3 separate regions of the Homo sapiens genome follow, and all the other regions are reported to be linked to region 2. The links are microRNA targets in miRTarBase. Many come from high-throughput screens and were not tested one by one. Region 2 holds a microRNA gene; each other region holds the end of a gene's coding sequence.
Evidence for each region. The annotated mature microRNA hsa-miR-3677-5p reads CAGUGGCCAGAGCCCUGCAGUG and lies in region 2 at 5,527-5,548, opposite strand. An mRNA with a match to its seed (bases 2 to 7 or 8) in the 3' UTR can be bound and repressed. Matches are read on the target gene's strand: a 7mer-m8 pairs with bases 2 to 8, a 7mer-A1 pairs with bases 2 to 7 and ends in A, and an 8mer does both.

Region 1: miRTarBase lists FAM222B as a target of hsa-miR-3677-5p. The part of its 3' UTR that is shown has no 7-base or 8-base seed match.
Region 3: miRTarBase lists DUSP7 as a target of hsa-miR-3677-5p. Seed matches in the 3' UTR shown: 7mer-A1 at 5,324-5,330 and 7mer-m8 at 5,098-5,104.

Annotation. Positions count from the first base shown.
Region 1 is chr17:28,751,683-28,759,441 of GRCh38, reverse strand. FAM222B (family with sequence similarity 222 member B) reads left to right here. Exons shown (of 3, transcript NM_001077498.3): 3 at 1-3,462. The coding sequence ends at 1,172. Among named protein-coding and RNA genes, the nearest start is that of TRAF4, 12 kb to the right of the region's middle.
Region 2 is chr16:2,268,504-2,276,262 of GRCh38, reverse strand. MIR3677 (microRNA 3677) reads right to left here and starts at 5,550; the gene lies at 5,491-5,550. It overlaps ABCA3 (ATP binding cassette subfamily A member 3), which reads left to right. Exons shown (of 33, transcript NM_001089.3): 33 at 1-382. It overlaps MIR3677HG (MIR3677 and MIR940 host gene), which reads right to left and starts at 7,600. Exons shown (of 3, transcript NR_132988.1): 1 at 7,420-7,600; 2 at 4,372-4,587; 3 at 3,191-3,276. MIR940 (microRNA 940) reads right to left here and starts at 4,516; the gene lies at 4,423-4,516. It also overlaps MIR4717. RefSeq lists a silencer at 7,490-7,759.
Region 3 is chr3:52,044,489-52,052,247 of GRCh38, forward strand. It overlaps DUSP7 (dual specificity phosphatase 7), which reads right to left. Exons shown (of 3, transcript NM_001947.4): 3 at 4,431-6,634. The coding sequence ends at 6,327. It overlaps LOC124906238 (a long non-coding RNA gene), which reads left to right and starts at 1,741. Exons shown (of 2, transcript XR_007095908.1): 1 at 1,741-2,834; 2 at 3,331-4,470. RefSeq lists an enhancer at 1,832-3,031.

The DNA.
Region 1 (7,759 bases), not on the chromosome of region 2:
AGCACCCTCAGGGTATCCCGCCACCCCAGGCACTGTCCCACCCTCAGAGCCTCCAGCAGCCTCAGGGCCTGGGCCACCCTCAGCCCATGGCCCAAACCCAGGGCTTGGTCCACCCTCAGGCCCTGGCTCACCAGGGTCTCCAGCACCCCCACAATCCCTTGCTGCATGGAGGCCGGAAGATGCCAGACTCAGATGCCCCCCCGAATGTGACCGTGTCTACCTCAACTATCCCCCTTTCAATGGCGGCCACTCTGCAGCACAGCCAGCCTCCGGACCTGAGTAGCATCGTGCACCAGATCAACCAGTTTTGCCAGACGAGGGCAGGCATCAGCACTACCTCAGTGTGTGAGGGCCAGATCGCCAACCCCAGCCCCATTAGTCGCAGTCTGCTCATCAATGCAAGCACCCGGGTGTCGACCCACAGCGTCCCCACACCAATGCCTTCATGTGTGGTCAATCCCATGGAGCACACCCACGCGGCCACCGCCGCGTTGCCTGCTGCAGGTCCTGTCAACCTGCCCACAGGCATCTCTCGCGTCCCCACTGGCTACCCTAGCGACCTCAAGCCAGTCACCTGGAACCAGCACCAGCTGGCCCACCTACAGCAGATGTGCAGCGAGGCTAGTGGGACGCCAGCCCCTGGCCTGACAGGCAAGCATGCGGCAGGACGCGAGTTGGCAGGGCCTGGCTTTGTGGGCAAGGCCCCTGCCTACCCGCAGGAACTCTGCCTGGCGCAGTCCTTCCATCTGAAGCCACCCCTGGAAAAGCCGACCCCATCCCCACCAGTCAACGGCATGGCAGCCCCATTGGCCTACCCCAATGGTCACTACTTCCAACCCCTGTGGAACAACATTCTGCCCACTCCCAATAGCGACAGCTCGGGGTCTCAGGACCTTGCCATGCCGTTCCACGGTGGGCAGCCCACAGGTGCACCCCTCGACTGTGCGGCAGCTCCCGGGGCCCACTACCGAGCAGGGACCGGGGGCGGTCCAGTGGCAAGCCAGAACAGCTTGATGCAAACAGTGGATTACCTAAGTGGGGATTTCCAACAGGCCTGCTTCCGAGAACAGAGCCTGGCCATGCTGAGCAAGGCCCACCGAGCCCCTGGCAACCGAGCCCCCGATCCCACAGAGAGTCGAAGTCTTCATATTCAGCACCCAGGGTATAGATAGGTAGCCCTGCTGCCCTCCACGTGCAACACATCATACATCACCCTCCTAGGTTTAGTCTTTTAAGTAACTGGATAGTTTCAAAGTTTCACTGCTCCAGTGTGATCATTCTTAGATGTCTAAGAAAGGGAATTTGGTGGGATCTAAGTGGGGACAGAAGGGGTCCTCTCGTCCTCCCCTCCAGCAACTTTTGGTTTTATGTTAGAACCTAACCCTAAGCCCAGGCTTTTCTCTCCACTGACTGCCTGTCAGCTAGTCTCTCCACCTTGGCCATTTCCAGCCAGCTCCCACCCATCTTTTCTTGAATCTCTTCCTGTTTCCCTTAGGACGACTGAGGTGTGGGCTGACGGAATGCCCTAGTTGAGGTAGTATAGGTGCTCAGGCCCCTAATCCAGACCTCTACCTGTTGCTACCCCCCTTCCCCTCCCTCCAGGACTAAGAAGCAAGATTTCCCAGGTGCTCTGAAAGCTAATTACTTACTCATCGAAGGATCTCAAATCAAAGCTGACCCAGTCTTCATATCCTTCAAGTTCCTTTCCATTCCTCAAGGCTTTGTTTTGTGTCTATATTGATCCCACAGCCACTGCACTTGCCCTTGCCACACTTGATCTCAAGGGCATCTTGGAAGTATTTGACCATTTCTTGAGATATGGGGGGAAAAAGTCTTTGTATTGGCATCTTGGTTCCAGACTCCCCTTTCCAAACCTAGAAAAATACAGTGACCTTTGAGCATACCCAAGATCCCTTTCTCACTGTTGCCTGTCCCCTAACTCACCTCCCCACAGCCCCTATCCTTTCCCCCTCAACAAAAACAAAATCTACCTTACTTGAGGAATTAGGTAGGTAAGGAATGATCACATTGGAGTTTGGGATTAAAAACACCAAAAAAAAAAAAATGCATTTGGTTCTCTCTACACTGGCTAAGAATATTGCTCTACACTGTAAGTTTTAAACGTTACGTTTCTGTATGAATGTAGTGTGGGTTTGAGTAGCATTGTGTGTGAGTGGCCCCACAGGTACATTCACCCTCTAGTGCAGCCCCTCAGTTTAATGAAGGAAAAAAAAACAAACACAAAGCCTTAAGCTCTTTGAGTACTTCCTTTACCAAATGAGCATGGTTCTAACACCTGGAGCTGGGCCTACATTGGAAACAAGCCCCTCCTGCCCTCTGTCCATTCTTAGAGCATACCTTCATCCACTCCATGCTCAGCACGTCTCATCCCAAGCGACAATTAGTTGGCTAGAAACACTTTTCTGTAATTTTAAACTTAGACTGTTTTGTTACAAATTTTTGCACCATTCTGTTAAAGATGCAGAATTGGGCTTTTTTATTTTTTACAGATGAAATAAGCCCTTACCTTTCCTCTTGTCTCTGGGGAATGTCAGCTGATGGTTCTTATTTAAGGTTTTGCATTTTGTTCACTATCCACTACTGTTCGTTAGCCAGAAATTCTCTAGTGATCTGAAGCAATGTGACTGAAGACCAGTTTTAAGTTATGTGTTGGCAAGTTGCCTTATATTTAAAAGGAAAAAGAAAAAAAAAAAAGCCTGATTGTGTTATGCCAAATGATAGCAACATGAAGTCCTAATTTATTGTTCCCAATTGTTTTCCTGCCGTCTGTGAACACTGGTACCTCCCTGTCCTGATCCCCCAGGAGCACCTGTAGCTTCTGACTCAATGCCTTCTCCGAAGGTGTTGGCCGCCATCTCACCCAGGGCCCTCTTCCAGTTCCTGCTTTTCTGAGTCAGATTTAAAGAGCACCACTGTCTTCCCCCTACCCCTTGCTTGATCTCCAAAGCAGATATTCTTGCTGTATTTTTTTTTCCTCCCCAATACCTCTCCCTGAAAGGTGAGCTGCTATTTTAGGAAACTGGACCAGACACCAACTTGGGGGCTTTAAGTCAAACAACCTCAAACCCATCTCTTCCTGTGTAGGGGTGCAAGCCTCTGAAGCTCTCACTCCCACCCTTAGTCTGCATGGAAAATGTACTGTGATCCCCCTGCCCCCAACTGCCCTCGCCTTTGGTGTGAGATGTTCCTTCTTTCGGAGTTCAGCCTGAGTCCCTCTCCCCTCTGCCAGCCAACCCCCAGCCAGCAATAAGGGTCCAAGCCAGGGCCTCCTCTCCACACTCCCTGTCTCCATCCTACACTACCCTAGGGAATACCTGGATTCCCCATTCTATCCACATACTGTAGCATTCATTCTCCATCTCTCTCACCTCACCTGTGGTGGTTTATGGGTGTGATGGGGTTTTTAAGATTATTATAAACCAGTAAAAATAAGAAAACCTCGCTTTCTGACCTTGTTCTATTCGTTTAGTGCTGTGAATGTTTGAGGTAACTTTTTCTTAACAGTTTCTAACATACCTCACTTCATAGGAGTAATTCCTAATTTTTAAAAGGGGTACCCCTGTAATATGCATCCCACCCAGAAGCCGTCTCCAAATCCATTATTTAAGGCCAGGTGCTATGGTGATTGTAGACAGTTCTTCAATGAAACCCTGGACACAGGGTACCCGGCTGACAGGCCCTCTCCCTGGGCAGGGCTGCTGTGGGCTTACTGTGAAGTTTGAGGATAAGTGTGGTTTGCTGTCCCTCACTGGAGGCCCAAAAGGTCCTGCCACTTGCATTCCAAGGGCCATAAGTCATTGAGAAATGGCGATCTGGTTGTTTTGTTTTGTTTGAGGCGAAGTCTTGCTCTGTCGCCCAGGCTGGAGTCCAGTGGCACGATCTCGGCTCACTGCAACCTCCACTTCCCAGGTTCAAAGGATTCTCCTGTCTCAGCCTCCTGAGTAGCTGGGATTACAGGTGCCTGCCACCACGCTCAGCTAATTTTTTGTATTATTAGTAGAGATGGGGTTTCACCATGTTGGCCAGGCTGGTCTCGAACTCCCGACCTCAAGTGATACACCTGCCTCGGCCTCCCAAAGTGCTGAGATTACAGGCGTGAACCACCATGCCCAGCCAAGAAATGGGGATCTGGTTTGCTAATAACCCAACCTAAAACTTCAAACCTGCCTTCTTCCACTTCCAACACTTTGGAAATTCTGAGGGCCTCTGACAGAGGTGAAGGTGATAGGCACTGTTATCTGCAATGTAACTGGCTCCTCTTGGTGATTACAGTTTTCTTATGTTGAATTTTGGATAACTTTATTTTTTTGTCTGCAGAGGAAAAAAAAAAAACACTAAGTGATTGCAGCCAGGCACAGTGGCTCATGCCTGTAATCCCAGCACTTTGGGAGGCCAAAGCAGGTGGATCATCTGAGGTCAGGAGTTCAAGACCAACCTGACAAACACGGGGAAACCCAGTCTCTACTAACAATACAAAAATTAGCTGGGCGTGGTACCACGCGCCTGTAATTCCAGCTACTCAGGAGGGTGAGACAGGAGAATCGCTTGAACCTGGGAGGCGGAGGTTGCAGTGAGCCGAGATTATGCCACTGCACTCCAGCCTGGGCGACAGTGAGACTCCCGTCTCAGGAAAAAAAAAAAAAAAATGAATTAAGTTACCCTCCTCTTCTGTTGAGCTTGGGTTTGAGCTAAGATGTAATGGAAGGAAAAGTTGATTCTGGCTGGGTGCGGTGGCTCATGCCTGTAATCCTAGCTCTGGGTGGCTGAAGTGGATTGCTTGTGCCCAGGGGTGAGACCCTGTGTCTTCAAAAATTGTAAAAAGTTGGGTGTGTAGTCCGGGTACAGTGGCTCACGCCTGTAATCCCAGCACTTTGGGAGGCCGAGGCAGGCGGATCACCTGAGGTCGGGAGTTCAAGACCGGCCTGACCAACATGGAGAAACCTTGTCTCTATTAAAAATACAAAATTAGCTGGGCATGGTGGCGCATGCCTGTAATCCCAGCTACTCGGGAGGCTGAGGCAGGAGAGTTGCTTGAACCTCGGAGGCGGAGGTTGTGGTGAGCCGAGATCGCGCCATTGCACTCCAGCCTGGGCAACGAGTGAAACTCAGTCTCAAAAAAAAAAAAAAAAAAAAACAAAAGTTGGGTGTGATGGCACATACCTGTAGTCCCAGCTGCTTGGGAGGCTGAAGTGGTAGGATTCCTCAAGCCCGAGAGTTTACGGCTGCAGTGCCAGTATCTGGGTGACAGGAGTGAGACCCCCATCTCTAAATGAAAAAACTATTTTTTTAAAAAAAGAAAACTGAGGCCGGGTGTGGTGGCTCACACCTGTAATCCCAGCACTTTGGGAGGCTGAGGCCAGCTGGATCACCTAAGGTCAGGAGTTCGAGACCAGCCTGGCCAACATGGTGAAAACCCGTCTCTACTAAAAATACAAAAATTAGCCAGGCATGGCAGCGGGCGCCTGTAGTCCCAGCTACTCAGGAGGCTGAGGCACGAGAATCACTTGAACCTGGGAGGCAGAGGTTGCAGTGAGCCAAGATCGCGCCACTGCACTCCAGCCTGGATGACGAGAAAAAACTCCGTAAAAAAAAAAAAGAGAAAAGAAAATTGAGGCTTGGCACAGTGGCTCACCTCTGTAATCCCAGCACTTTGGGAAGTGAAGGCCAGCCAGATCACCTAAGGTCAGGAGTTTGAGACCAGCCTGGCCAACATGGTGAAATCCCGTCTCTACTAAAGATACAAAAATTAGCCAGGCATGGTGGCAGGGGCCTGTAATCCCAGCTACTCGGGAGGCTGAGGCAGGAGAATCGCTTGTGAACCCGGGAGGCAGAGGTTGCGGTGAGCTGAAATCGTGCCACTGCACTCCAGCCTGGGCAAAAAGAGTGAGACTCTGTCTCAAAAAAAAGATTATATATATATGTGTGTATATATATATATAATTATAATATCTATATGTATACATATAATATCTATATATATAATTATATAATATATATATAGATTATATATATACACATATAGATTCCACAAGATGGGGGATTCAGGGAGGGTAGAATCAGACCCTTGGCGGCAAGAGTCCGCAGGTGGCTTCCTGAATGCTGACGGAGCTAAAGCACCAGCCTTCTTTCTTGAGCACACCCTTTTCTGTAGGGTGCTTTTGTTTTTTTATTTTTTTTCAGACGGAGTCTCACTCTGTCGCCCAGGCTGGAGTGCAGTGGCGCAATCTAGGCTCACTGCAGGCTCCACCTCCTGGGTTCACACCATTCTCCTGCCTCAGCCTCCTGAGTAGCTGGGACTACAGGCGCCCGCCGCCATGCCTGGCTAATTTTTGTATTTTTAGTAGAGATGGGGTTTCACCATGTTAGCCAGGATGGGGGTGCTTTTTTTTCCTTGAGATAGTCTCTTGCTCTGTCGTTCAGGCGGGCAGTGGCACGATCTTAGCTCACTGCAACCTCCACCTCCCGGGTTCAAGTGATTCTCCTGCCTCAGCCCCATGAGAAGCTGGGACTACAGGTGTGCGCCACCATGCCCAGGTAATTTTTGTATTTTTAGTAGAGACGGGGTTTCGCCATGTTGGTCAGGCTGGTCTTGAACTCCTGATCTTGTGATCCGCTCGCCTCAACCTCCCAAAGTGCTGGGATTACAGGCGTGAGCCACTGTGCCTGGCCGAGGGTGTTCTTTTGTGAAAGTGTTTTGACTCCTTTATGCCTCATGCCACCCCTGTGAAAGGAAGCTGTCTTCTGCCTGTGTCAGATAAGATCTGCAGTCGGCCCAAAAGCGGAGCTAGACATTAGTAAAGTACAGCGCTTCCTCCAGAGTGAATGATTCCTGGGCTGAGGTAGATCCTTGGGGAGTGCAGCTCACACTTTTATTGCAGAACATGGCCTGAATTCTGCAAGTTATGACTAGCACTGAATAAGGTCCAGGTGTGCAAGGCTTGCAGAGTATGGGGTTAACAGCCCCATTGTTTGCATGCAACTCTAGGAGGCACCATCTAGACTATGTGAATGTGACCCCCGGAAGCATGCAGTGACAGTGTATTTATTTATTTAGAGACGGAGTCTCACTATGTTTCCCAGGCTGGAGTTCAGCTCACTGCAACCTCCACCTCCCAGGTTCAAGTGATTCTTCTGCCTGGGCCTCCCAAGTAGCTGGGACTACAGGTGTGCACCACCATGCCCAACTAATTTTTTTTTTTTTTTTTTGAGATGGAGTTTTGCTCATTGTTGCCCAGGCTGGAGTGCAGTGGTGCGATCTCAGCTCACTGCAGACTCTACCTCCCAGGTTCAAGCAATACTCCTGTCTCAGCCTCCCAAGTAGGTGTGATTATAGGCACCTGCCACCACGCCCAGCTAATTTTTGTATTTTTAGTAGAGACTTTTGTTTCACCATGTTGGCCAGGCTGGTGTTGAACTCCTGACCTCAGGTAATCCGCCCTCCTTAGCCTCCCAAAGTGTTGCGATTACAGGTGTGAGCCACTGTGCCCGGCTCCTTATATTTTTTTGTAGATACGGGGTGGCTCCCTTTGTTGCCCAGGGTCATCTCCAACTCAGGCTCCCAAAGTGCTGGGATTATAGGCATCAGCCACTGTGCTCGGTCAGGTGTGTAGCTGGGATTCTGGAAAGGTGTTTCAGCCTGTTGCCTGAAAGCATTTATGCTGCTGGAGCCCATGGTTGCCTCTACCAGTCTCCAGGCATCACCGTACCAAGACGGTTTATCTGGTGAAGAAGCCCAGCT
Region 2 (7,759 bases):
GCCAGCCAGGTTGAACTGTAGCGAGGCCCCCAGGCCGCCAGGAATGGACCATGCAGATCACTGTCAGTGGAGGGAAGCTGCTGACTGTGATTAGGTGCTGGGGTCTTAGCGTCCAGCGCAGCCCGGGGGCATCCTGGAGGCTCTGCTCCTTAGGGCATGGTAGTCACCGCGAAGCCGGGCACCGTCCCACAGCATCTCCTAGAAGCAGCCGGCACAGGAGGGAAGGTGGCCAGGCTCGAAGCAGTCTCTGTTTCCAGCACTGCACCCTCAGGAAGTCGCCCGCCCCAGGACACGCAGGGACCACCCTAAGGGCTGGGTGGCTGTCTCAAGGACACATTGAATACGTTGTGACCATCCAGAAAATAAATGCTGAGGGGACACAGTCACAGTCTGTGGGTCACACGCGCGAGCGGTCACAGGGCTCAATCACTCGCCCACAATCTAGACATGAGGCTCTCCTTTCACATTTCAATCACACAAACGTGGGACGTTGCTTTTCCCAGAAGGGAGCACACGCAGAGAATACACTGAGGTGAAGGAACAGGCCCATAACACAAAGGAAAAAGCCGGCTAGATCAACGCCCGGTGACAGGCTCTTAGTCTAAAGACAAGAGCAGGTGGGGCTGTGTGGGAAGCACAGGTCTGGTGGGAGAGAAGCTGCTGGCATCAGGGTCACCCGTGGGCATTTGCCATTTCCCAGAAATAACTCCTCATCAGCTCCCTTTTTAGTTATTTATGGAGTCTTGCTTTGTTGCCCAGGCTGGAGTGCAGTGGCGCAATCTTGGCTCACTGCAACTTCTGCCTCCCGGGTTCAAGCCATTCTCCTGCCTCTGCCTCCCGAGTAGCTGGGACAACAGGCACGCGCCACCACACCCAGCTAATTTTTGTGTTTTTAGTAGAGACGGGGTTTCACCATCTTGGTCAGCCTGGTCTCGAACTCCTGACCTGAAGTGATCCACCCACCTCAGACTCCCAAAGTACTGGGATTACAGCCATAAGCCACCGTGCCTGGCCCCTTTTTATGCACTGTTTTGTGTTTTGTCTTTTGGAGACAGGATCTTGCTCTGCTGCCCAGCGTGGAGTGCAGTGGTGGTATCACAGCTCACTGCAGCCTCAAACACCTGGGCTCATGCAATCCTCCCACCCCAGCCTCCGGAGTGGCTGGGACTAAGGGCATGCGCCACCATGCATGGCTAAATTTTATTTTTAGTATAGACGAGGTCTCATGTTGGCCAGGCTGCTGCCAAACCCCTGACCTCAAGTGATCCACCTGCCTTGGCCTCCCAAAGTGCTGGGATCACAGGCGTGAGCCACCATGCCCGGCGAATGCACTATTATTTCTTATGGTTTTCTAAACCCGATTTGAACTTCTGCATTTTACATTCCCTTAGAATTCAGAGTTTTAGAAAAGACTTGTTTTCATCACTTTGGCTCATTTGGGACAATTTCAAGTCTGTGTTTTTATCAGTCTCTGGAAATTTATGAAAGCTGCAAATCGTCTCCAGTAGCTCTTTTATTCCCTTTAAACTTCTGCCATCTAGTTCCATGTTATAAAAAATATAACGTGTTTGGGCAGTGTTTAGGCCACAGCCACCCATGTGTAGCCACCCCTACACATGGGTGGCTGTGGCCTAAACACTGCCCACGAGAAAAGTTCTGAAGTGGGCCCTTCTGGCCCCACAGCCTGTCCGCAGGGGCTGTGGCCTCTAGGTCGGGCCTGGGGCTAGGAAGAGGGAAAGGTCAGTGCACGAGGCCACCCAGCTCCATGTCCATGCCCATGGCCCTTCTGCAGGGCATCCTCAGACTTGTTTTCAAGCCCATGTGTTAGAGATTTAGGAATGTGTCATTTTTCTCCTGTGACACCCTAAAAGAGGGTTGGGGAGAGCGTATAGGACTGAGGGCACAGCCCGCATGAGGCACACACGTGTGAGGCCAGCGTACACAGGACACGCACAGGAGATACCATCCTTCCCGGTAGCACGCTGCCAGCACCAGCAGGGGTCTTTAAGTAAGGACTGGCACAAGTAGAATGCCTTCTTAGGAAAATGATCCGCAGCTCAGGAGGCTGCTGCGTGGGGACCGGGAGGGGCAGGTGCATTCAGGGCGTCTGTGGCAGGGGCCCAGGGCTGCACCCAAGCCTGGAGCTTAGATGACCCCAGGAGCAGCAGGAAGGGCCCATCTGGCATCCCAGGGAAATCCTCAAGGCCTCTGGAAACTCAGTGCTGGAGCTGGGTCACCAGGGGTGCCCTAAGGAGCCTGGGACTGAAGCCTCAGGACCCTGCCCTGGCCGATTTTTGTCTGAGCTGTGGCAGTTCCCAGCCCACGGGAGGGCAGGGGAAAAGAGCCTTGGGCCCAGGGATAGGAGTGACCGGCCTATCCACGCTCCACCCTAGACCACGGAGGGGGGCCACACATTCTCTACGGACACTGTCCCCAAACAACTGTGGCATCTGACAGAGCCAACTCCTGCCCTGCTCCCAGTTCACCTTAGACCTGGGAAACGAGGTTTTGACTTCACTGCTCTGCATGGCCTGGTGCAGGGCTCCCGTGAGCAGACGGCCCATGGGCCACGAGCCAGGTATGTGGAAGAGCCTGTGCCTTCTGTCCTCCAGGCCGGCCCAGTCCAACGGCGTGGCTCAACTGAAACCACACCCAGAACTCGGAGAGGGGAAGACCTCGCGGTGGGGCGGGCCCAGGCCAAGCCCCTCCACTGCCATCACAGGTTTACAGCGGAGCAGAGGGGCAGGCCGGATACAGGCAGCCCAGGCCACAGGTCAGGGGACCCACACCAGGCCACAGGAACAGGCTTGCTGAGGGTATCAGAAAACCCCAGGTCACAGTGGTTTGAAAAAGAAGTTTATTTCTCAGCCATGTAGGCAGGAGGAGGCAGTCCAGCACTCGGTCACCTGAGGTCTCAGGGAGGCAGGCTCCATCTGCTGCCCCGTCATCCTGGTTCACGCCTCCCTCCTCATGGTCACCTCTGTGTTCAAGGAAGTGCTTGGCCGGGCATGGTGGCTCACGCCTGTAATCCCAGCACTTTGGGAGGCCGAGGCAGGCGGATCATGAAGTCGAAAAATCAAGACCATCCTGGCTAACACGGTGAAACCCCGTCTCTACTAAAAATACAAAAAAATTAGCCGGGTGTGGTGGCGGGCACCTGTAGTCCCAGCTACTCAGGAGGCTGAGGCAAGAGAATGGCGTGAACCGGGGAGGCGGAGCTTGCAGTGAGCCGAGATCACGCCATTGCACTCCATCTGGACTACAGTGAGACTCCATCTAAAAAAAAAAAAAAAAAGGAAGTGCTCAAGTTCAGGCCGGGGTAGGGTGTGTGCAGTGGCCTCCGTCAAGTGTGTGTCACCCCCAGGCAGCTCCCTGCTGCGCCTGGACCCAACTGTGCCCTTGGCTCACTCCATCTTGCTGGGTTTCCCATCTCTGTCTTACTGGCTGCTTTCAGAGACCAGGCCCAGAGTCCCCAGGACTCAGGTGACCTTGGCTACCCTGGAATCCTGGACTAAAGATCTGCAATAGAAATGTGTCCAGCAGGGAATGTAATGTGTCCAGCAGGGAACCATCCTGTTTGCTTTGCTTTTCTGAGTTCCTACAACCAACCGGCCAGGGCGCACTGTGGGGCACAGGGATGCAGGCCCTGGAGTATGGCCACTTCTGCCTGGGGGCGTCTGGGGGGTTTCCTGAGTGAGGTGGGGTCTCACCAGCTCCAGGAGACACCACTGCCATGCACAAGGTAGGTGTGGGGGTGGAGGATCACCTCCGTGAGGACCCAGACCCCACCCACTGTGGCTGTGGTGGAGACTGCAGGTCTGTCTCAAGGCCCCAGGCCTGACACCTGCAAGAACAGAACCTGGGGGTGACGGAGAGGGGATTCCACCAGGCCAGCCCGGGGCTTGAACCCCAGCCAGGGCAGCTGCTGTCTGCTGCCCCACCAGGTAACGCACCGACCCAGCTGCTGTTCAGCTCCCCCTCTGGGCCAGCACCATGCTCATGGCATAGGCCGGCTGGGCCCTCTGAGACCCCCACTCCCACACAGACTGGTCTGCATGGAGGCTGGTGCAGCCTGTGCCGTACAGACCCTGCCCGGCTGCACTACTGGCCAGAGCCCCCTGCAGACAGGCGGCTCGAGGGGAGCTCCACCATGCAGGAGATGGCCCAGCACTGCAGTCACTTAGGCTGCTCATCCCTCCCCGAACTGACATGTCCCTCCCTCCAGATGCCCCCCACCGCCGAACCCCAGCATGCTGGGCATGCTCTGGCCATCCCACACAGGGATCAGGGTGGGAGGGCTGGAGGCTGCCTGTCAGGGGCAAGGCCTCCTCCAGGAGGTAGGACGGGGTGGTGCAGGTGGGGTCCCCTCACCTGATGGGCCCTCGAGGCCAGGCTGTAGGCAGGCAGGAGGGGGCTGAAGCAGTGGGGTCAGGCCCGGGGAGCGGGGGCCCTGCCTTCCTTCCTCAACACACGGGGCTGCCCAGGCCCCGCTCCTGGGGCCGGGCCCACACCTCACAGACACTGGTGTTGGATGCTTCGGCTTGAAGGAGCTCCAAATGGACTAGCCGCAGCTGCCCCTGGGTCCACCTGGCCCAGGCAATACCACAGAATCACCAAGGCTCATCTAGCCATGGGCCCAAACCCAAGGCCCTAAGAGGCACCCCGGGTGCCTCAGTCACAGTCCCAGGCAGCTCAGGTCCCAGGCGGCTCACAGTCACCATCCTTGACTTCATGGTAGCAGAAATGGAGTGCTTTGAGCTTGTGATGAGCACAGGCTCCCAACCCTGGGAGAGTTCAGACATGCCCACTGGAGAGGCCCCAGGCCCTGATGATACCCACTCCTCAGACATGCAAACCTGGAGCCAGGGAGGCCCCAATGAACTGCATACTCTCCCAACAGACCAAGCTCACCCCACACCAGCGCAAGGCCCTTTCAGACCCAGCCTGGCCACCCCCATGGACCTGGCCAGCACCTCCCCCAGCCCCACCCTCTCCAGACAGGCACCAGGCTGTGGTGACCCGCCTCTCAGCAGCTCCTCCTCTGATGCCTCCCCACGGTCCAGTCGTTACCCCCTCGTCCACCTGACTGGGCTGCGCATGGCCTCAGTGCAGAGCCAGGTTTTAGTAGTGGGTAAAAGGGCTCCCTTGCTGTGCTTTACCAGAGAATGCAACACCCCCAAAGCTCCTTCATGACCCACTGTGACCTGCAGCACCACCAAGCCCATCCTCATCCCTGTGTCCCAGGCCACCAGCCTCTGAGGGCAGGCACTGCAGGAGCCACCGGGCCACAGAGGATGGAGGCAGGGAGGACATTCTGCCTTCATGAGGGCATGCTCTCAAAGACAGAGCCGCCCCAAACTGTCAGCAGGTGACCCTCCGCTCTGGGAAGGCAAGGGGAGGAGCTCAGGGCCGTGGCCAGAGCCCACGAGAAGCCCGTGCCCAGCTCAGCAGGTGACCCTCCGCTCTGGGAAGGTAAGGGGAGGAGCTCAGGGCCGTGGCCAGAGCCCACGAGAAGCCCATGCCCAGCACTGCAGGGCTCTGGCCACTGCCTAATGCCCTCCATGAAGCCCTGCCTGCCCTTCCAGCAAACCAGGGCCCCTGAGGCTCCAGAAACCCCAGCTCCACTGCCCTCAGCCTCCATGGCCTTAGCAGCCTGGCTCTGGGGCTGAGCTCCTGGAAGGGCAGGGTGGGGGTAGGCTCCTGAGTTTTATTTTCTCACATTTCTTCCAGACATGCTTCTGCTGATCCTCAAAATGGCAAAAGCCAGGATGCTCAATTCTCAAAGCTCAACAGCTGATGGCACATTTGATAACAAAAATCAGTAATATTTAGAAACAAATTTGATTAAATTCGTAAGTGCCTGAATAAATCATACTTGTAGATTTAATATAAAATGTGTGAAAGCTTATTCGCAGGCCAAATGACATTACTGCAGAGCATTAAAAACCAGCAGGGGGAGGGCTGTCGGCCCAGCTGGTGCTGCGTCACGCCCACCCATGTCATGTGGGGTCACCAGGCTGCCCCTGCCCACCAGGTGTCAGTGGGGCCCTGGGCATGGGCTCTAGGTTTGGGGCCTTTTAGCACCTCTGACCACTGGACTCCAATGCCACCTCAGAGAATTCCGCCTATGCCTGCCTGGACCACCGAGGCTGCCCCCTCCCCTAGCGCCGACTCTGGGGCCCCTTCAGCAGGGGGGCGGCCCCTCTGTTCCACTTAATCTTCCATGCCTGGGCACAGCAGGTGTGACAGTAATGCAGAGACTCTAACTCACTTTACATGTCATCAAACCCAAATCCAACGGGTACCCAAACCAGACTGATGGGCCTGCCAGCCTCCACCCACAGGAACACACTGGTGACTTACTGCAGCAGACTCGGGAGGTAGCTCCTCCTCCTAGCTGCCTTTGTCCCCAACTCCTTGGACATCCCTTAGCCCAGGGTGAAGGGTCAAGGGCACACTTGACACCCTCGGACAGGGCCAGAGGGAGTGGGTCTCGGCAGGAAGTCACCAAGAGCTGGCTTCCCACACAGGGAAGAGGGCAGTGATGGCAGACCACATCCCCACTATCTATCCATCCATTCACCCACCCACCCACTCCGGGTCACCAAGCTGCACCCTGTCCTTTGCTCTGACATCTAAAGTCTCCAAGTCATGCTGGTTCTCTCCTCCCAAAGATCGGCTTGGATCTGTTCCCTTCTCCCTTCCTTGCTGCCACGAAGCTGTTCAGACAAAGTCTGAAGCTCAGCGCACCGTCAATCCCTCCACAAATAACCACAGGGCAACGACTGCCTGACAGGCACAGCAGAGAACAAAACCCGCCCTCGGCCGGGGGCGGTGGCTCACGCCTGTAATCCCAGCACTTTGGGACGCCCAGGAGCGAGCACTTTGGGAGGCCAAGGCGAACCTAGGAGCGGATCACGAGGTCAGGAGTTCTCGACCAGTCTGGCCAACATAGTGAAACCCTGTCTCTACCAGAAAAATACAAAAAAAATTAGCCGGGTGTGGTAGTGTGCGCCTGTAATCCCAGCTACTCGGGAGGCTGAGGCAGGAGAATCGCTTGAACCCGGGAGGCGGAGGTTGCAGTGAGCCGAGATCGCGCCGCTGCACTCCAGCCTGGGCAACAGTGCGAGACTCTGTCAAAAAAAAAAAAAAATCCGCCCCGTCAGTGTGGGGAGTTGACGCGGAGCCTCCTGCCTGCACCCCTACAGCGTCACCCCCTCCTCTGTCCCTGCCAGAGGCGCCACCTCTGGACTCTCCCAGGGTCGGACCCTGGTCGACAGTGCTCCCTGCCCGGACCCTGCACCGGCCGATGGATGAAGCCTCGGCGCTGCGCCGTTCACACGCTCCGTGCCGCTGCCGCGAAGCTCGCGCGGGCCTGCGAGCCGGTACCCGGGCCTCCCTTCCCTGCTTCCAGCGAACCTCGGCGCCTGCTGTTCCCCCGCCGGGCGCGCCCTTCCATTCGGGTCTCAGCGGCAGTGTCACCTCCCCGGAGAGGCCCGCCGTTGCACCCCATCTCCCACTCTCAAGCTCGTCGCTCTTCCTGCCCGCACAGCCCGCCTGCCGCGCCCACCCGGTGGAGGTCCGCCTGCCGGGAGGCCGCGTCCACGGGAACACCCCAAACGCCACCAGTGGATTTTGACCGCACGAACGCACGCCCTGCCCCAGCCCGTCTCTCCGAGCTACTTCCGCCCTGCGGGCCCCCACGCCCCGCCACGCACGGCCGCAGAGCCTGCGAACCCCTCCTGTGCTACCACCCCGC
Region 3 (7,759 bases), not on the chromosome of region 2:
TTTGCTCCTGTAGTTCCTCCACCGGGAGCCTCATCCCAAGCCCCCATGCTAGGTTCTGTGGGGTGAGGAGAGAACTAGGTTTGGGGCATGCGAATTGGGGGACCAGAGGCAGGCTCAAAGGGGTGTGGTGCTGAATCTGAGGGCCAGATACCTCAGGGTCATTATTCTATCTCTCATCAGTGGAAACAGGGAATTGGAGAACTGAACGGGGGAGGAGGCTTGTCCGAGATCACACAGCAAATTGACAATAGTTGGGCCGGAGAGGTGCCCCTCAGCAGCGGTGGGGATGCCACAGCTAAATGAACTCACCTGGGCTCCTGTTCCAGAGGTCTAGGTGGGCAACAGGCCCTTCATCCTGCTCTCTCCTCTTGAATTGGCAATTCTTATCCCCACTGTACAGATGAGGAAACGGAGGCTCTGAGATGGGCCGTCAGGGCTGTGCTGTCCTGGGGGACTTCCAGGACGCTTAAGGATCTTGGGGCCCCTTGGCTCTCCCTGGGCGCCTAGCATGTGGTGGCACAATGAGGGTGAGGCAAGCTTCCCTCAGGGGAGGTGAGTGGGGGCTCGGGGTCCCGTGGGCCCACGCATGCCCGGGCTAAGCTTAATCCTTCTGCGAGGCACAGCGGCTGGCTTTCAGGCTGTGGATGTGGCATCAGACAAGCTGGGACCCTCTGTTCACACCATGGGTCTTGATTCCCATGGGGCCCAAGTCCTGCTGGTCTGCAGATGTGTCCTTCCCACACCCTCTCCAGCACTCCTGACCCACCCTCAACTACTGTCCTGGCCTCCTCCCTGTCCCCTGGCCTGCGCGCTTGCCTTTCAGGCCGCTCTCACTCACCAACTAGATCTTCATTGTGACAGCCAGACCCCATCAGCCCTGTGCCTGATGCCCTCTAGGGGCTCCCCTGTCCCCTAAAGAGGCTCCTCCCTGGCCCATGACGCCCTGTGGAAAGGCACTGCAGCTTCTCCTCTGCCTGCAGCCCTGAGGCCAGAGGAGGAGTTGAAGGCATGGAGGGAGGCGTGTGGAGACCCCACACATGCACGGAAGCTACACGGCAGACAATGGCCCCTGGAAGTGTGCGATAGGACAGCCCTGGGAAGGGGGCTGGCTGCCTGGGCAAAGAGAGGTTCTAGCAAGGGGCCGGAGTCTGTGTCACGGTCACCTGTGGGGGCTCATCTGACCCAGCCAGAGACAATGGGGCCAAGGCCTCTAAGAGTTGCTAATGATAGTCTTTAATGACCATGCCTGGAAAGGGATGACTTCACCCAGGACACACCCTGATGAGAGGAGGCTACAGTCACAGGCAGGCGGCTCCTCCATTGCTATGAGACCTGCATGGGCTTGTCTAGTCAGAGGATGGCAAAGCTGTGTGTGTGTGTGTGTGTGTGTGTGTGTGTGTGTGTGTGTGTGTGTGTGTGTGTGTGTGTGTGTGTGTGTCTGGTCCCTCACAGAGCCAGGGCCTAGTGAAAAGCCTCAGGGCAGCAGGGTGGGGGGCCCAGCTTCTACCTTGCCTCACTCTATGACACCCCTCTGCAAACCTCACCTTCCCCATCAGCACAGGGCTGGGAAGCAGAGTGATTCCCGAGCCTTCCCAGGGCTCTCAGGTAGGCTGGGTCTCAGGAGTCAGGTGAGAGCACTGTGTCCTGGTGGGGCCCAAAGAAAGCAGGGGAAAAGATGTCAAGGATCAGGACCTGAACACCCTCCATCGGGGCACCCAGAGGTTAACATGCTACTGTGCTCCCTACAGAGAAAGCTGGCTCCCATATCAGGCCCTCTGGCTTCTGCCAAGGATCTGGGGGTAGGTGTTGGTGTCCCAGACACATCCATTCTGACACAGAGGGAGGTACAGTGCAGTCATGCTGTTGGCCCAGGTGCACAGCACATGGGCAGTAGCAGGGAGGGGCAGGCTCCAGTGCAGGCTTGCCACCTACCCCCACCCTGGTCCATTCATGAGGAATGACTTTCCTCTGGGGAGGGGCCCTGTGGGGGTGGCAGGCAGAGCAGGGCCCTCTCCTGAGGGCTCCCTCTGCCCCCAGGCTCAGAGCGGGACCACCCTAGGGAAATGTTCATCTCTCCTGCGGTCTTGTCGGAACCCCTTCAAGGTCATCGCTCCACAGCACTCCAAGTGCTTCCTCGTATCCAGCCTTAGTCAGTCCTCATGTTGCACTTGATTCATTTATCAGAGGACAAGTTGAGGGCCCCATTATCCTGCCACCCAGTGTGACATCACCGAGCTTCCCTCGGGCATGTTCCCTCCCTGGGACTGCCCAGCCGGCACAGGAAATGGCTGCTGGATGAATGTGCAAGTGAGTAAGTGTCTTGGATCCTCCTCCCATGGGAACACTAAGCGGCTAAGGAGTGGACCAGCTCCCCGGGGTCCAGGCTGAAACGGAGGCAGAAACAGGGACCAAGGAGGCAAACAGGCTCAAGAGAGCAACAGGACTGGGGACAGAGATAAAGCAGGTGCACCCCCAGAGAGCCAAGTGTCCAAGAGCTCAGGACGGCTGCGCTGAGGGCCTCAGCCACAGATGGCCTGAAGCAAGCAGGGCCCGCTGGGGAGAGCATGGCAGAAACGGGGTGGGATAGGAGGAGCTCAGGACACGGGGCCATGAGATGGGAGCCCAAAACCCAGGGGTGGGGGACCACAGTCCAGTAAGCGTGGCCCGGCCCAAGGTCACAGAGCAAGGACCCAGGGCCCCAGCCTCTCAGCCATGACCTGGCCCTCTGTCCCCCAGCAGGGAACCTTAGCCAGGCCCAGTGCTGAGGTAGGAATTTCTACAGGTAAGGAGGACACAGACGGTCAGAGAGACCACTGGCCCCAGAGTGCACAGGGGTAAGTGGCGGGGCTGGCCCTCTTCAGGCAGTCCCAGTCCTCCGTCTGAAGAGCCGGCTCAGGAGGCGGCTGCCACTCCCACCCCCACCCCGTCCTGTGCTTGGGCACGCTGGCACTGCCAGGCACTTACTCGGTTTGTCGAGGGCCCAGCCCCCAGCCCAGCACCCGCGGGCTTCCCCAGGCCTGGGCGAGGGCAGCAGGAGGGAACAAAGGCCCAGTCTCTGCCTGCTCAGGCCCCCACCCCCTTTGCCTGCCCCTGGCACAGAAGGAACAGGGCCCTGAGGGAGCCCAGGAGCAACAGCAGCACCGCCCCCTTGTCGAGGATGCAGCAAGAAGCCCCCTCCTACCCACAGAGGCCTGCCGGCTGAGCGGCAGGATTCTTCCACGCTCCACATGGGAGTGTTAGGGGGTAGAACTGAGGGACTGCAGTCACACAGCTGAGATTTGCACCCAGGCCCCACAGTGGGCAGAACCTGCCCTCTACCCCTCTCCACAGGCTGCGCATGATGGTTGTGACTGCGTTCTGGTGCAGACTAACTGAAGAGCAGAGATGAGGGAGAGAAGAGAAGGAGAGCCTTGGGCACCCCAACAGAGCAAGTCCCAGGCTGAGCCGCCCTCACCCTCTCGGCCCTACCTACCTACCTTCCACCTGGATCCAGCTCAGTGCTGATCACACAGTTTGCTGAAGGGATAGAGCTGGGGAATGTCAGAAATGGGGAAACTGAGTCAGCTTCCAGGCCTCTTAAGTCCTTGACTGGGGCTCACCTGATCCAGCCAGAGGCAAGGGAGACCTAAGCCACTCTGGAGCCTCCATTTCCTGATCTGTAACTCGGGGCTTGTTGTCCACTGGGGCCTCACTTCCCCAGACTGTGGCCCCCATCCTTCTCCAGACCTCCTCCCTGCTCTAGCCCAGGGCCTCGCTTAGACCCCCACCCCCAGGGGAGCCTTGACAGAGGCCCATGCCCACCCTTCCTTGTACACGCCTGAGCACGGCTGATTCCTCCCTGTGAGCCCAGGCCAATAATGTGCTCTTCATGCCACAAAGCTGAAAAGCACTCAGGAACCAGGTGCAATCGGCCTAAGGGACCTGTCCAAGGCCACCCAGCCCTTAAGAAGCAAAGAAGGGCTGACCTGTCACTACCCACTGATATCTCAGGACCTGCAGGGGCAGGGTTAAATGCACATTCCCCTCTCACCCACACGGCAGCAAGAGAAAGAGTTAGGGTCCTGGGGGCTGCAATCTGGGCAATGCCTAAGCAGACAGCCTCAGACAATGAAGGGCGAGTCAGGACTCAGTTGTGTCAACTTGGTATATACAACCTCTCCAAGCCTTGATTTCAGCAGAAGCCCACAGAGAAAGCCCTGATGCCTCTGCCTGCCAGTGCCTAAGGGCTGGGGAAATGCCACCTGCCCCAGCTTCATCCAGAAACTGTGGCTGCTCCCTCCCATCTGCGGGGCACCTTGATTAGTCTAAGTGGCCAGCAGACCCCAAGCAGAACCAGGCCAGTGCCTCACACAGAGCAGGCACTAGGATGCCTGTCGACAGCACTCCTTCCCCTCCTTCCCAGGCCCCAAGCCCTTATCGGACACGACTCATTTTAAAGAAAAAATAATATTTATTTGCAATATAAACAAAGTCCCGTTGTTGGTTCGGGATATATATATATATGTATGTGTGTGTATATATATACGTAGGGTCACAAATCTTCCTTCATAAGATCATAAAGCAAAACTGGCCACCTTCTGGCATACCCTCATTTACACAAATCTGGTACATCTTTCTGGGTTTTCTTTTTAAAAATAAAAGAGAGAAAAAGAGAACCATGTACAGCATGGAAGCTTGTTGTCAATTTCTCGACTGTGGCAAGATTTTAATCTGCTGCGCTAAAGAATCCCTGAAAGCCACCCCCGTGAGGTAAGAAGCAGTGGGGCAGAGTTTTTCTGTGGCCTCACTCACATGCTGAGTGCTGCTCCGTCAGGGACCCTGGCCTGACTCCTCTGCCTGCCCCAGGCCCCCATGCAGTCCTGACACCTGGTGGAACTGAGGCTGGAGAAGGAACAAAACTGGAGGAAGATAACGGAATCCGTGGCTTCGTTCTGTGGAGGCAGGGGGAAGTGAACAGAGCCTTACCCCCCTTCTGCTGGTCCATCCTTGCCCCACTTGCCCCCGCCCTAGGGTTGAAATGGGTGCAAGTCTCCTGGCAGTAGAAGGCATGGGCAAGATGAGGGCAGGGCAAGCTTCCAAGGGGACAAGGGGGCTGGGAGTGGCCAGACCAAAGCAACAGCTAGGGAGAAGGAAGAACCTGGAGGTCGGGCTGGGCCCCACCACCTAATGTCTCCCCAGCCACTGGGCCTCCACTCCCAGTTACAACAAGAGAGAGGAAAGGAAGAGAGAGGGAGGGGGGGAGAGAGAAAGAAAGAGAGAGAGAGGGAGAGAGAGAAAGAGAGAGAGGGAGAGGAAGAGAGAGAGACAGACAGACAGACAGAAGTAGTGGCTAAGTATATAAAAGGGCTCAGAGCCCAGGCCTTCTTAGGGGCTGACCCCAGAGGGCTAATGCTACTGCCTGGCAGCCCCCTGCGGCCCACCTCCTGGGGGACAGCGGCAGGGCCCCAGGGTCCCCACCTTCTGCCTCAGGGAGGTCTGCAGGGACCACCAGAGGGATGGATGAGACGGCAGAAAATGCAAAGACCACCATCCAGCCCACCAATCACAACTTGCAGCAGTCATCACAGGCGAATGCAGAGCTAAGTCAGACTGGGCCAAGGGTGGGAGGCGGCACGACTGGGGGTCCCAATACCTGAAGAGCAGTAAGCCACCCCTTCAAGAAGGGCCCGCTGAGGAAACAGAGGCTTCACACATGTGCAAAACGCATTTGGTCAAGGTCAACATGGCGTCTGTCTTTTCCATTAAAAAACAAAAACAAAAACAAACACGATACTTGCTTTTTGAAATTGAACGAAAAACAAAACTGAACATTTCTCTCTCTTGCAGGATCAGGAAAGGGATGAAATACTGGGTTATACAATCCACTGTTGCATGTAGCCTGAAAATAACACTTTTTGTTAAAAAAAAAAAAAAAAAAGAAAAATCAAGAAGAGCTCAAACACTCTTTGTGCTCCAGGGAGCTTGGATTTACCTGCCAAAAGTAAAAAGTAAACTCAGGTCCGTGGATGTGTCTTTAAAAAACAGCCAAACTGGCTGGGCTGTCAGCAGAAAGGAGCGTCCTGGACAGGATGAGGCCCTGGTGGACGCCCAAAGCCACGTGTCCAAGAGCCGAGGCCTCTCCAGCAAGCCCTGCAGTGGGAGACCTTGCCTGCGGGCCCTGCCCCCAAGGATGGTGAGGGGCGCTCCGACACCGATCAGCCTGGGCCTCTGGGCACAGGTGACATCTGGGGGTTCCTCAGGCCAGAGGTGGCGGGCTTGGGCTCTCCCACCTAGCCCTGTGGAGAGCCGAGCAGGGGCCTGGTGCCATGCCCCCCGTGCACCAGGCCTCACGTGGACTCCAGCGTATTGAGTGGGAACAGGTTGTGGTTGGTGGGCGTGGAAAAGTAGAGCTGCTCACTCGACGCGTGGTTGTCGCACGGGCTGCTTAGCCCCAGCGTCCGCTCAAAGTCCAGCAGCTGCCCCATGAAGTTGAAGTTGGGCGAGATGTTGGACTTTTTCCTCTTGACAAAGTCGTAGGCGTCGTTGAGTGACAGGTTCATCTTCTGCATCAGATAGGCCACAGTGACCGTCACTGAGCGGCTGATGCCTGCCAGGCAGTGCACCAGGACACCACACTTCTTGGAGCGGGCTTCGTCTGAAACACATTGGCATGGGTCAGGGAGGTGCCTCCTTCAAGGAGCCTTCCCACATGGGTGGGCAGGTGGGGCTGGGGCACAGAGGGCAGCATGGTGGCTGGCTGGTCTTGCCCGACCCCTGAGGGACCTGGCCAAGCCCAGTGTGGGTAGGGCAGCAACTTGGAATAGAGGTCAACAGCACTGCTGTGGAGAGGGCTCTGCACACTTTAGCCCCAAGGCACTGGACACCCGTGTCTGTTTCCTCATCTATAAAATGGGCCTATTTATGCACAGTGGTCTCATAAGGACCTGAGCCAAGTGAGGGGTCAACAAACATGAACTACTGTAATGCCTGTGATCATGGCTAGTCCTACCACTGCCATGTGCGTTAACGACTGCTGTCACGGGTGTCACCTGCATCCTCTTGGGTCATCTGCACCATGGCCAGTAAGCCCATTTTATCAACGAGGAAACAGACACAGAGACAAAGTGGCAAGCCCAAGGCCACACAGAAGCTCCTCCTAGCTCAGCGCCCGCTGCTGCCAGGCCATGACCTGGGACTGGGGGCTGGGCTGGTTCTCTTGGAGCCGCTCCCATGGGTTGTCCCTGAGAGTCTTCTAGGAAAGTGGCCTGAGGGAGGCTCCTCTGGAAGGAAGTAGGTGGCCTGGCCCTGCATTTCGCTCTGCCATCTGCCCAGCTAGTCCCCAAGGCCTTAACTCCAGCTCCTAAGACACATGGACTGGGATGATGGCCACACTATCACTTGTGATGGGGCTTCATAAGTGAGGTGTGCTTAAATGGGCCCCACCCCTGCCACTTGCTAGACCTTCCTCAGGAGGCCCATGTGTCAGTGATATCTCCTACCACAGCTGACTGGATGGGGCCAACCTTCCTGTCCCCTTTCCCCTCCAACCCTCCCAGCTTCCCCCAGTGCCACCCTCAGACTCCTCTGTCTGACACATAGAAGCTCAATAAATACTGGCCGAGCTACTGAACAACTCAGTCCTGTAATCTCTCCTGGACCCCGGGGCAGCTGCCTCTCTGTGTGCCACAGCTGTGCCAGGGACATAGATTCACAAGAGGCAGCCATGGGGTCCTTGATGTCCCCACCACCCTGACTCTGAACCCTCCAGGAGCCAGGCACA